Regions from separate parts of the Homo sapiens genome. Here region 2 is linked to region 1. A link means that fine-mapping ties the variant in region 1 to the plasma level of a protein whose gene starts in the linked region. Region 1 holds a variant in brackets. A gene starts in the other region. All regions are shown on their reverse strands.

Region 1 (6,876 bases):
ACCCTCTGCGGGTCCCTGAGGTAGCCCAGTGACTTCTGTCATCTTCCACTCGACTCCACAGGCAGCCCCGCGCCCACCATCCACTGGTCCAAGCTGCGTTCCCCACTGCCCTGGCAGCACCGGCTGGAAGGTGACACACTCATCATACCCCGGGTAGCCCAGCAGGACTCGGGCCAGTACATCTGCAATGCCACTAGCCCTGCTGGGCACGCTGAGGCCACCATCATCCTGCACGTGGAGAGTAAGGCCTCATCCCTTCTTTGTCTGCACCAAATGGAGATCTGAGCCCCCCGACTAGGCTCCACCCCACACAGAACCCCAGGAACCCCATCCAGAGGTCTCCAGGCGCTGCAGGGTCCTGGAGCCTGCCCTGCCCGACACCCACACCCTGGCCTGGGACCTTTGCTTTCCTTATCCCCAGTCCTCTGGGCTCACCATTCAGCTTCCCTGGACACTGGATCCAACGACCTGCTGCCATTCTGACCTTTGCCCTCCCCAATCCTGACCTCTGTGTCCCCCCACTCAGGCCCACCATATGCCACCACGGTCCCAGAGCACGCTTCGGTGCAGGCAGGGGAGACGGTGCAGCTCCAGTGCCTGGCTCACGGGACACCCCCACTCACCTTCCAGTGGAGCCGCGTGGGCAGCAGCCTTCCTGGGAGGGCGACCGCCAGGAACGAGCTGCTGCACTTTGAGCGTGCAGCCCCTGAGGACTCAGGCCGCTACCGCTGCCGGGTCACCAACAAGGTGGGCTCAGCCGAGGCCTTTGCCCAGCTGCTCGTCCAAGGTAAGCAGCCCCGGCTCTGCGTGGAAGGGGATCACCTTTCCTCCTGGCCCTTTGATGACCCAGCTAGGCAGACTCGGGTGGGAAGGCCTCCCTCCATAACCCCACCTGGAATGCCCTCATCTCCCCTACTCTCCAGGGCCCGAGGCAGGCTTGCCACCTCCAGGAAGCCCTCCATCATGTGTGCTCAGCTCCTCTAGCTCTCACGGCTGCTCCCCACCTTTGGCACAGCCCTGGCACTGCCAAAGGAAACCATTCTGTGTACATAAGCACCCCAGCCTGCCTCCCCTGCCAGGCAGTGAGAATGCTCAGGGCAGGGCCTGGACCCAGGCATCTCAGCAGCCCTGGGCTTAATTGAGGGCAACAAGGCCCAGGATGGGCTGGGTAAATGCTTGACAGGGACAACAGTGAATGAGTGACAGGAGCACCCACCCCAGCACGCCCAGGGCTTCAGTGGATCTTCAGAGAGCCCAGCATTTCCATGGCCTCCTGCATCAATGATACAAATGAGGGCTTTTGGGCCCCAAACTTAAAGCAGCACAGCATGTAGCCCACTGGTCAAGAGCCTGGACTGTGGACTCAGACCTGGGTTCAAAGCACAGCTTGGCCATTTGCTGGCTGTGCAACCTTGGCCAAGTCACTGAACCTTTTTGAGCCTCAGTTTCTTTCTTTTTTTTTTTTTTTTTTTTTTTGAGACAGAATCTCACTCTTTCACCCAGGCTGGAGTGCAGTGGCATGATCTCGGTTCACTGCAACCTCCATCTCCCGAGTTCAAGCCTTTCTCGTGCCTCAGCCTCCCGAGTAGCTGGCACTACAGGCACGCGCCACCACGCTTGGCTAATTTTTGTGTTTTTAGTAGAGAAGGGGATTCGCCATGTTGGCCAGGCTGGTCTCGAACTCCTGACCTCATGTGATCCACCCACCTCAGCCTCCCAAAGTGCTGGGATTACCGGCGTGAGCCACTGCACTCGTCCTGAGCCTCAGTTTCTTTATCTGTAAAGTGGAGAGAACAATGCCAACCATGTAGGCTGAGTTGGAAAGGTACACAGAGGTAAACACAGATGTAAAACTGTGGCTCGCAGTAGGCACTTAGTAAATGGGGACAGTATGCATCAGCCCCCGCCTCCCATCTGTCCCCTGCATGTGTAGGTGTCTTTGCCATGGCCAAGTCCCTGGATTCTCTTATTTAAACTGCAGGCAGAATAGGCTTTGCTGTCCTTCCTTAAAATGTCTGAGTATGGCCGGGCGCGGTGGCTCACGCCTGTAATCCTAGCACCTTGGGAGGCCGAGGCAGGCAGATTGCCTGAGCTCAGGAGTTTGAGACCAGCCTGGGCAACATGGTGAAACCCCGTCTCTACTAAAATACAAAAAAAAAAAAAAAATTAGCCAGGCACGGTGGCGCACCTGTAGTCTCAGCTACTCGGGAGGCTGAGGCAGGAGAATCGCTTGAACCCGGGAGGTGGACGTTGCAGTGAGCTGAGATCGTGCCACTGCACTCCAGCCTGGGAACAGAGCGAGACTCCGTCTCAAAAAAAGTATTGAGTCCCTCCCACTCTTTTCGTGGCCTGCCCTCCCCACCCAGAAGCGAGGAGCTGTGGAAACAGAGCCCAGCGCTCCACAGGCCCTTATCCATGTTGGTGGAATGGCAGCTGTGTGTGCAGATGAATGAATCTGCCACTGAACGGTCTTTTTTCCCTGGTCAGAGAGGCTATCAGGAGAACATTCCTTGAATGTTGGGCTGGGGGTTTCCTGGGTCCCTGGAGGGGCATCAGGGACATCACACACACATATACCTGCAGAACCTCATACATGTCCCCGCAGGCCCTCCCGGCTCTCTCCCTGCCACCTCCATCCCAGCAGGGTCCACGCCCACCGTGCAGGTCACGCCTCAGCTAGAGACCAAGAGCATTGGGGCCAGCGTTGAGTTCCACTGTGCTGTGCCCAGCGACCGGGGTACCCAGCTCCGTTGGTTCAAGGAAGGGGGTCAGCTGCCTCCGGGTCACAGCGTGCAGGATGGGGTGCTCCGGTGAGTGGGGCCGGGGGCAGGACTGGACTTGGGCAGCATAGCCCAGGGCTCACAGTGAGCAGAGTTAAAGCACCTGCCCCAGGGGGCGCAACATGAAGCACTGTCCTTGGACACATCACTTTACCTCTCTGAGCCTCAGTGTTCTCAGCTGTACAGTGGGTTATATAAGACTGAATGAGGTCCAGGCACGGTGGCTCATGCCTGTAATCCCAGCACTTTGGGAGGCTGAGGCGGGCAGATCACCTGAGGTCAGGAGTTTGAGACCAGCCTGGCCAACATGGTGAAACCCTGCCTCTACTAAAAATACAAAAAATTAACTGGGTGTGGTGGTGGGCACCTGTAATCCCAACTACGCTGGAGGCTGAGGCAGGAGAATCACTTGAACCCAGGAGGCGGAAGTTGCAGTGAGCCAAGATCGCACCATTGCACTCCAACCTGGGTGACAAGAGCAAAACTCCATCTCAAAAAGAAAAAAGACTGAAAGGAGATTGTCTGAAGCACTTGCACAGTGCTTGGTGCTTGGAAGGCCTTCAGTAAACAGTGGCCCATTCATATTTATTATTAGCGGAGGAAAGAGAACAGGCCCTGGGGCCAGAAATACACAAATGACCCCAGATCTCAGCTCTGCTACTTGATAACTGTGTAATCTTGAGCCCTAGACCATAAGGTCTTTGTCTAAAATGAGTGTGGTGCCCCCCAACCTGCCTGCCTACCTCTAGTGGTTATTGGGAAACTAGAATGCAACACTGCGTGCTGTTCTACATCAGTTTTTAATGCCCACACAATTGCAAAGCATTCTTTTTTTTTTTTTTTTTTTTGAGATGGAATCTTACTCTGTCACCCACGCTGGAGTGCAGTGGCGCAATCTCGGCTTACTGCAACCTCCGCCTCCCGGGTTCAAGCGTTTCTCGTGCCTCAGTCTCCCAAGTATCTGGGATTACAGGCGTGTGCCACCACGCCTGGCTAATTTTTGTATGTTTAGTAGAAACAGGGTTTCACCATGTTGGCCAGGCTGGTCTCAAGCTCCTGATCTCAAGTGATGCGCCTGCCTCAGCCTCCCAAAGTGCTGGGATTACAGGCGTGAGCCACCACGCCCAGCCCAATTGCAAAGCATTCTATCAGTTGTTTTCAACTCCCTGATGTCTTATTATTTTTTCTTTATAGAATCCAGAACTTGGACCAGAGCTGCCAAGGGACGTATATATGCCAGGCCCATGGACCTTGGGGGAAGGCCCAGGCCAGTGCCCAGCTGGTTATCCAAGGTAGGAGGGTGGCTTCAGGCCTCTGCTAAGAGCAGGGAACAGAGATGAGAAAGGCAGAGAGGCACAAGGCCCAGACCCTGTTCCCTAGGAATCCCCCTAAATGTGTCAGAATAAAGAGAATTATTCCATTTTGCCTTGCTTGTGTCTAGCATAGAGTAAAAGGGGCTTGATACATATTTCAAGGGAGGGAAGAAGGATATGGATGGAGTGTGTGAGTGCTCAGATGAACCGATGAAGATTGAATCAGTGTGAACCGGGCATGGTGGAACGCACCTGTAGTCCCACCTACTCAGGAGGCTAAGCTGGGAGCATTGCTTGAGCGCATGAATTCTAGGCTGTGGTGAGCCGTGATCACACCTGTGAATACAACCAAGACCCTTTGTCTAAAAAAAAAAAAGAAGTGGACACGTGAGTGAGTAAATGCATAAGACCTGACAAGTGAGTGTGTTTGTGAGTGAATGCATGAAAAAGTGAATGAGGAGTGAATGAATGCTGGAGCTTCAGTGCTCACCTTTCCTTGGGCAGTCTATGGCCTCCCTCGGGCCAGGCCTGCAGTGACTGATCTCACTGGACCTCTGCCTCCCTCCTCCCCAGCCCTGCCCTCGGTGCTCATCAACATCCGGACCTCTGTGCAGACC[G/A]TGGTGGTTGGCCACGCCGTGGAGTTCGAATGCCTGGCACTGGGTGACCCCAAGCCTCAGGTGACATGGAGCAAAGTTGGAGGGCACCTGCGGCCAGGCATTGTGCAGAGCGGAGGTGTCGTCAGGATCGCCCACGTAGAGCTGGCTGATGCGGGACAGTATCGCTGCACTGCCACCAACGCAGCTGGCACCACACAATCCCACGTCCTGCTGCTTGTGCAAGGTGAAGGCCAGTGGGGACTTTTGTTGGGGGACAGTGAGTGGGGCAGGGGCTTCTCCTGCTGCCATCTTCTGCCTGCCCGCTCTGCTCTTCCTTTCTGTTCACTTGGGACATTTTCCATTGTGTGTGTTTAAGGGGCAGGTTTCATAACAGGTGGCAGCAGCAGGGGATAAAAGTGAGATTCCCCCAGGGCAGCCTGGAATGTACAGGGAGAGAGCTAGGCCATAGAGCATCAAGAAGAAAAAAGAAACCTTGTCCTCATCTGCAGGGAGTGCCTGCTCTGCTGGGAGAGACCTGCAGCATAGTCTGAGGGCAGAGACATAACCCAGTCAACAAACAGACCTAATAGAGAGTAAAACAAGGACAACAGATGCAGGGCAGACACAAACACTGTGTGTTCTTTAAAGGCAATTCCTTTTTACCCCAAGCCCTGTGACTTGCCTCCAAACTTCCTTACCTATACTGCCCCTAGTGTGCACTTCTCAGGTCCCCAAAGGGCTGCACAATTTTTTGCCCAGGCATGTTGAAGAGGTCTCAGGCTGTGGAGTGAAATGGATCTGGCCCTGAACCCTGACTCTGCCCGACCAGGAGCAAACAGCCGCTTTTCCCCTCTGAGCCATAATTTCCTCATCTGTGAAATGGAATGTAGTGGCTTCCTTCAAGGGGTGGTGTGAAGATGAAATGAATCAGGGTGCAGGCTGGGCACATATCTGTGACTGTCATGTTGATGGCCTATGTCTCTTCCATGCCTCTCAGCCTTGCCCCAGATCTCAATGCCCCAAGAAGTCCGTGTGCCTGCTGGTTCTGCAGCTGTCTTCCCCTGCATAGCCTCAGGCTACCCCACTCCTGACATCAGCTGGAGCAAGGTAAGTGCTGGAGAGGGAACCAGCGGGCATGACTTGGGGGCTGGGAACAGATCTGAAGCGTCTCAGTGTCCCCAGGATGTGGCACAGGCTTGGCCAAGAGCAAACGCTCAATGTTGGAAGGTGGGCCTGAGGCACAGATGGGAGGTGGGCCCCTGGAGCCGTGGGCCAAGGCCAGGGCCCTCAGTGCTAGTGCATTTGCAGCTGGATGGCAGCCTGCCACCTGACAGCCGCCTGGAGAACAACATGCTGATGCTGCCCTCAGTCCGACCCCAGGACGCAGGTACCTACGTCTGCACCGCCACTAACCGCCAGGGCAAGGTCAAAGCCTTTGCCCACCTGCAGGTGCCAGGTAAGACACCACCCCTAAGAATTGGCAGTGCCCTGCCCACTCCCTGACTGGCAGGGTCTTCAGCTGTGCTCTCTGCTGGCAGAGCGGGTGGTGCCCTACTTCACGCAGACCCCCTACTCCTTCCTACCGCTGCCCACCATCAAGGATGCCTACAGGAAGTTCGAGATCAAGATCACCTTCCGGCCCGACTCAGCCGATGGTGAGCAGGAGGGTTAATTTGCGGGGTGGGCTGGCCTGGGTTGAGGGACCTCGTGGAGTAACTGCCATCATGGCAGGAGCCCTGGCTGCCCCTCAGTCCTGCCCCAATCCCTCAGCCCTCCCTCTCCAGAAGCCCCCAGACCTCTGGGCCTCCACCCTGGTGTGCCTTCTCTTGTGCCTCCCGGCTTCTCCATCCCTGCCTCTGTGATATCTCCAGCCTCCTCGTGGCTCCTCTGCCACCGGGGCATCACCCCCAGTCCTCCTGTCCCAGCTTCCTTTCCCCATCTCTGCTCCTTCCTCCCTCCTCTGCCTCCATCTCACCCTTTCCTCCTCTCTTTCTCTCGTCTCTTACGGGTCTCTGACTTTCACTGTCCAGGCCTCCTTCTCTACTCGGGTGAGTCTCTGCCTCCCTCTCCCCCTTGAGGGAGACTCCAGTGTGTGTGAAGCAAATTCAGTTTCTTTCTAGGGGCGCTCAGTAAGGCCCTTGCGTTTGGGGCACCAGCCCTGAGATAGTGAGAAGGCCCTGGCTGTGT
Region 2 (4,709 bases), not on the chromosome of region 1:
TGGGATTACAGGCACCTGCCACCATGCGCGGCTAATTTTTGTATTTTTTTTTAGTAGAGATGGGGTTTCACCATGTTGGCCAGGCTGGTCTCAAACGCCTTACCTCAGGTGATCTGCCTGCCTGGGCCTCCCAAAGTGCTGGGATTATAGGTGTGAGCCACTACCCCCGGCCCAAGCATCCTACTTTGTTGCCCCAGATCCAAGGCCTACCCTTGGCTCTACTCTTTTTTTTTTTTTTTTTTTTTTTTTTTTGTGGCAGAGTCTTGCTCTGTCGCCCAGGCTGGAATGCAGTGGCACGATCTTGGCTCACTGCAAGCTACGCCTCCCAGGTTCATGCCATTCTCCTGCCTCAGCCTCCGGAGTAGCTGGGACTACAGGTGCCCGCCACCACGCCCGGCTAATTTTTTGTATTTTTTTAGTAGAGACAGGTTTTTACCATGTTAGCCAGGATGGTCTCGATCTCCTGACCTCATGATCCGCCCGCCTCGGCCTCCCAAAGTGCTGGGATTACAGGCGTGAGCTACCACGCCCGGCCCCTTGGTTCTACTCTTAGGAACCTGGTCCCCAGTTCTGTGGACCACCATACCCAGCACCCCCCAAGCCTGGCCTCTGCGAGCTCAGAAGTTGGGCCTGGCTGGCACCTGCATTCACACTGGCTGTGTTCTTCCAGGGACATCTCCCCCAGCTGACTGCTCGGGTACCGGATCATGAGGATCTGTGCTCAGGAGAAGAACAGGGGGGACAGTGAGGGAGAGAGAGAAAGGGGATGCTCTAAGACTGAAGGGAGAAAAGCTCACCCAACAGCCGGGAGGCTGGCCACCAGCCCTCCCCCCAACCCTGTCTCCTGTGCATCAGTCTCCAGGCTGCCCCAGCCCCAGAGCCAGCCAGCATCCACCCTGCCCGCTGCCCCACCTGCCCAGTACCTGCATCCCCTGCCCGTTGCCCCACCTGCCCAGTACCTGCATCCGGACTTGGTGCTGCCCAGTGGGCACACACTCCAGGCCATCGTCAGGGCAGCAGCCACCACAGCGCTGCACAGTCACGCAGCTGGGCACCAGCTGTTTGGCCACGGTGCCCATGAGCTCCACAGTCAAGGGCACCACCACCTCCCGGGGCTGGCAGGTAGCGCGAGTATACACATCTATCCATGACACCACTGGGAGCAGACCGGTAGGGGTTAAGTCCTCACTGGTTTTCCTGCAGCTGCTCCCAGCATCTGTCCTCCCCAGTCCCCAAGTCACAGCCACCCTCCACTAGCCCTCCCCACTCTGCCCTCACAACCTGTCTTCCCCTGCCCTGTTTATCCAGATCCCAGTAACCCCACTGCCTCAATTTCCTCCTCTGTGAAATGGGTAGAATAATAGTTTGAATCTTCTAGGGGAGTTACACAAGATGATGGACACCTGGAATCAGGGCCCATGACAAACCCTCTTAGTGCTGGCTAGTGCCGAGTTTTTGTAAGTATTACCTTTCCTCTGGTGGCCAGGGGCATCAGGCTGGGAGACAGGGGCCTGTGGGAGAGAAAAGACCTGTACCCAAGGTACACTTTAGGAGGGTGTGGCCCTGTCACCGTCCCTGGGGCTTTGCCCTTGCATCAGTAGGCTTCACCACCTCTCTGACATCTTTCCAGATTGCTCTGTTCCTGCGGCCACTGCTCTAGCTTTACCTGTCCTCTCCTGGCCACCCGGGACCTGCCCTGGCCCAAAACGCAACAGGTGCTCTGGTGGCCGCGCCAAATCTCCAGGCCGCGGAGCCGAGCATGTTTGGGGGCTGCATGCAGATCAGGAGCGCGCACAGTGCCCACCGAAGCAGGTCCTGCAGGCACCGAGGGAGCCCCGCCCCCGGCGGTGCCCAGGGGACGGGGTGGGGCGGAGGAGTGGCCCCAGACTGGGGCTGGCGGGCCAGCGGGGAGGGGCACCTCCCAGGGGATGCACGCGCCGGGCCCCCGAGACGCCCGCGTCCAAGGCCGGACCCCGCAGATCCCCTCGGCCGAGGCCGCGGGTCGCCTCCTCACTTCCGCCAACCTTGAGAGAGGGCACGGCGGGCGGGCGGGCGCGCTGTCGGGCCGCACGTACCTGGGCGGGGGCCAGCTGCAGGAGTGCGGCGAGCAGCAGGCGGCGGAGCAGAGGGCTCATGGTGCCCGCCGGGGCCGCCCGCCGGGGGCGCCCGCATCGCCCTAGCCCGGCGGCGCGGGGGGCGGCGACAGCCAGAGCCCCATGGCGCGGGCCCGGGCGCGGCGGGCGGGGGCCGGGCGCGGGGGGCGACTCCTCCGCGGCCCCCTCCCGAGCCCTGGGTGCAGGCAGCGCAGCGCAGCGCAGCGGAGGCGGCCGGAGGAGCCGGGCGGGCGGGCGGCCGGTGGCGGCGGGCAGCGGCGGCGGGGACGGCGGGGGCGGCGGGGGGCTGGGCCCGGGCTGGCGGGCAGGCGGCTCATGTGACCCAGACACGCGCTCCCCACCGGCCCGTGGGGCGGGGGCGGGGCGGCGGGGTGGGGGGGCGAGGCCGTCGGCGGGGCCCGCCTCCTCCACACACCCCCTCCCGCCTCCCGCCGCGGCAGGGGAAAGGGGACGCACCGCCCAGGAGGCTGGGCTCCCCAGTCGCCGCCGCCACTACCCGGAGGGCGGGGCGCTGCCCCTTGGCGAGGCCGGGGCCGGGGGCGTCGGGCCTTAAGGAGGGAGCCGGACACGAGCTCTGCGAATCACTTTATTGCGCGCGTTTCGGGGAGCGGGCCGTCCAGGGAAGGAAGCAAAGCGGGAACGCACTGCAGGCCCCATCCAGGTGAGCCCCTCAGGGGCCGGCGCCCCGGGGCACGATCTCGGGGCCTTGGGTTGGCTCGGATGGTGGCGGCTGCCGCTGCCCTAGCCGTTGTCGCTCCTGCTGAAGGATGCCTCTGTTGGCCCTGGAGGAGAGGGCACCTGGGTGGTTGGGATAGGGATCCCGAAGTGTGGTTCCTGGACAGGGAGCAGGGAGCAGAATAGAGCAGGGACAGACCTGGCCCGTGCCCGGGCTTCGTTGTAGAAGGCTGTGATGATCCGATCCTTTTCATCCATGAAGTTAAGGTGCATCTGCTTCACCTTCCTGCAATGGGTCACAATTAACCCTGGGAATCCAATTCCTGCTGTCCCTGAAGTCCTGCCCCCTTCCACCCCACTCTAGGGGCCTCACAGCTTTTTACCCTTACACAGGGTTAGGAACCTCAGTCTAACCCTTCCTGTGATAGATAGGGAGGGCTCAGAGTGGCCCTGGCTTGTCTAGGGTCCAATGGCATCCGAAGTCCCTGGTCACTTTGAGGTGTGACAGCAGCTGTGGACATGGGGGTGCTCCTCCCAGAAGACTAGAAAGGGTATGCGTCTAACTCCATCACTGAACTAGGCAGGCTGCTAGCAGTGGGCACTGGCCTTTAGGTATCTGCTATAGAAAATCGGCTTTGTGGCCAGGCGCGGTAGCTCTCACCTGTAATCCCAGTACTTTGGGAGGCTGAGGCGGGTGGATCACCTGAGGTCAGGAGTTTGAGACCAGCCTGGCCAATATGGTGAAACCCCATCTCTACTAAAAATACAAAACAACTAGCCGGGTGTGGTGGTGGACGCCTGTAGTCCCAGCTACTCGGGAGGCTGAGACAGAAGAATTGCTTGAACCTGGGAGGCAGAGGTGGGGTTGCAGTGAGCCGAGATTGCGCCACTGCACTGCAGCCTGGGCAACAGAGTGAGACTCCATCTCAAAGAAAAAAAAAAGAAAAAAAGAGAATAAAGAGAATCAGCTCCGTGGCACGCGTGAGAGTGGCAGGGAGATGCCTACTGCCAAATGAATGAGCTGTGCTGCATTTGCTGCTTGTGCTTGATTTTGTTTGGCTCAATCCCTTCCTGGCAGCCAGCATGAAAGATTTACATTCGAAATATGAAAAACTGTAAATGACAACGTTAGCTCTTGGTGCAGCGCTGCCTTTAATAAGTAAGGAGAGGCTCCAGAGACCAACTTCAAGCAGCTCTTAGCTTGAGAGACACAAGAGTACGGGCCACGAGGTGCTGTGGAGGACTGGCTGACCACACTGGAATTCACCCACCCTCCTGCCCTCTGCCCATCACCCCGGGGAGAACAGGCATCACCTGAAGGCAATGTAGTGCAGGCCCATGCCCGCCAGCATGAGGAGGAGGCAGTACCCCAGCACTTGTTTGTTTTGTTTGTGTTGCTGCTGCCTCAACTGGGGCCCCTGTGGCCTCACGCTGTGAAACTGGGACCAGTACTGTGCGTTGGGGGGTGTCCAGGAGCTGCTGGGAGGCAGAGGAAGGGACATTGTGGAAATGAGACTACCCAAGAGACCTGGGGGTGGGGCAAGCTGAGGGCAGGATTACTGTACCTGTGTGTTTGGTGGGCAGACTTGTCATGGACTGTGGTTCGTGGAGACTTTGGGGGACTACCTGAGCGGAGCTGGTCATCATAGCTGCGGCGGCTCTGCTCACGGCTGAGCACACGGTATGCCTCGCTCAGCTCCACAAAGCGGCTGTGCAGGCTTGGGTTCCCAGGGTCCCGGTCTGGGTGCAGCTGGGGTGGGGCAGGACTCCCCTTATCTCCCTTTGCCTGTCCCTCCCCAGGACCCATGCTGATGACATCCACCCACCAGGGCTCCAGTCATACCCAGAGGCCCTGCCTGGTCAGTGACCCTCACTCAGGCCTGCCCACTCCTCAGAAGGCCAGAGAGCATGGACTCCTGC

Which allele goes with the higher level. Positions count from the first base shown, and alleles are read on the strand shown. Strength reflects both the effect of a copy and how common the allele is.
In carriers of allele A in region 1, the plasma level of the protein whose gene starts at base 2,385 in region 2 tends to be higher than with G alone (moderate association).

The links. A credible set is the group of variants that fine-mapping cannot tell apart. PIP is the chance, under the fine-mapping model, that this variant and not a neighbour inherited with it causes the effect. The UK Biobank Pharma Proteomics Project read protein levels with antibody pairs (Olink). The fine-mapping took linkage between variants from a reference panel, not from the people measured, so its PIPs are less certain.
Region 2: it holds the start of VEGFB, and the variant in region 1 is the best candidate, but not a certain one, in a credible set for the plasma level of the VEGFB protein (UK Biobank, PIP 0.61).

The regions. Positions count from the first base shown.
Region 1 is chr1:21,832,736-21,839,611 of GRCh38, reverse strand. HSPG2 (heparan sulfate proteoglycan 2) reads left to right here. Exons shown (of 97, transcript NM_005529.7): 73 at 62-241; 74 at 527-787; 75 at 2,606-2,810; 76 at 3,975-4,072; 77 at 4,667-4,933; 78 at 5,687-5,796; 79 at 5,998-6,145; 80 at 6,228-6,344. Among named protein-coding and RNA genes, the nearest start is that of LDLRAD2, 24 kb to the right of the region's middle. The variant G/A (reference allele first, on the strand shown) is at 4,711.
Region 2 is chr11:64,232,260-64,236,968 of GRCh38, reverse strand. It overlaps VEGFB (vascular endothelial growth factor B), which reads right to left and starts at 2,385. Exons shown (of 7, transcript NM_003377.5): 1 at 2,076-2,385; 2 at 1,469-1,511; 3 at 960-1,156; 4 at 642-715. The coding sequence starts at 2,135. It overlaps DNAJC4 (DnaJ heat shock protein family (Hsp40) member C4), which reads right to left. Exons shown (of 6, transcript NM_005528.4): 3 at 4,355-4,539; 4 at 4,104-4,265; 5 at 2,989-3,075; 6 at 2,688-2,896. The coding sequence ends at 2,785. RefSeq lists silencers at 1,758-2,127, 2,348-2,837.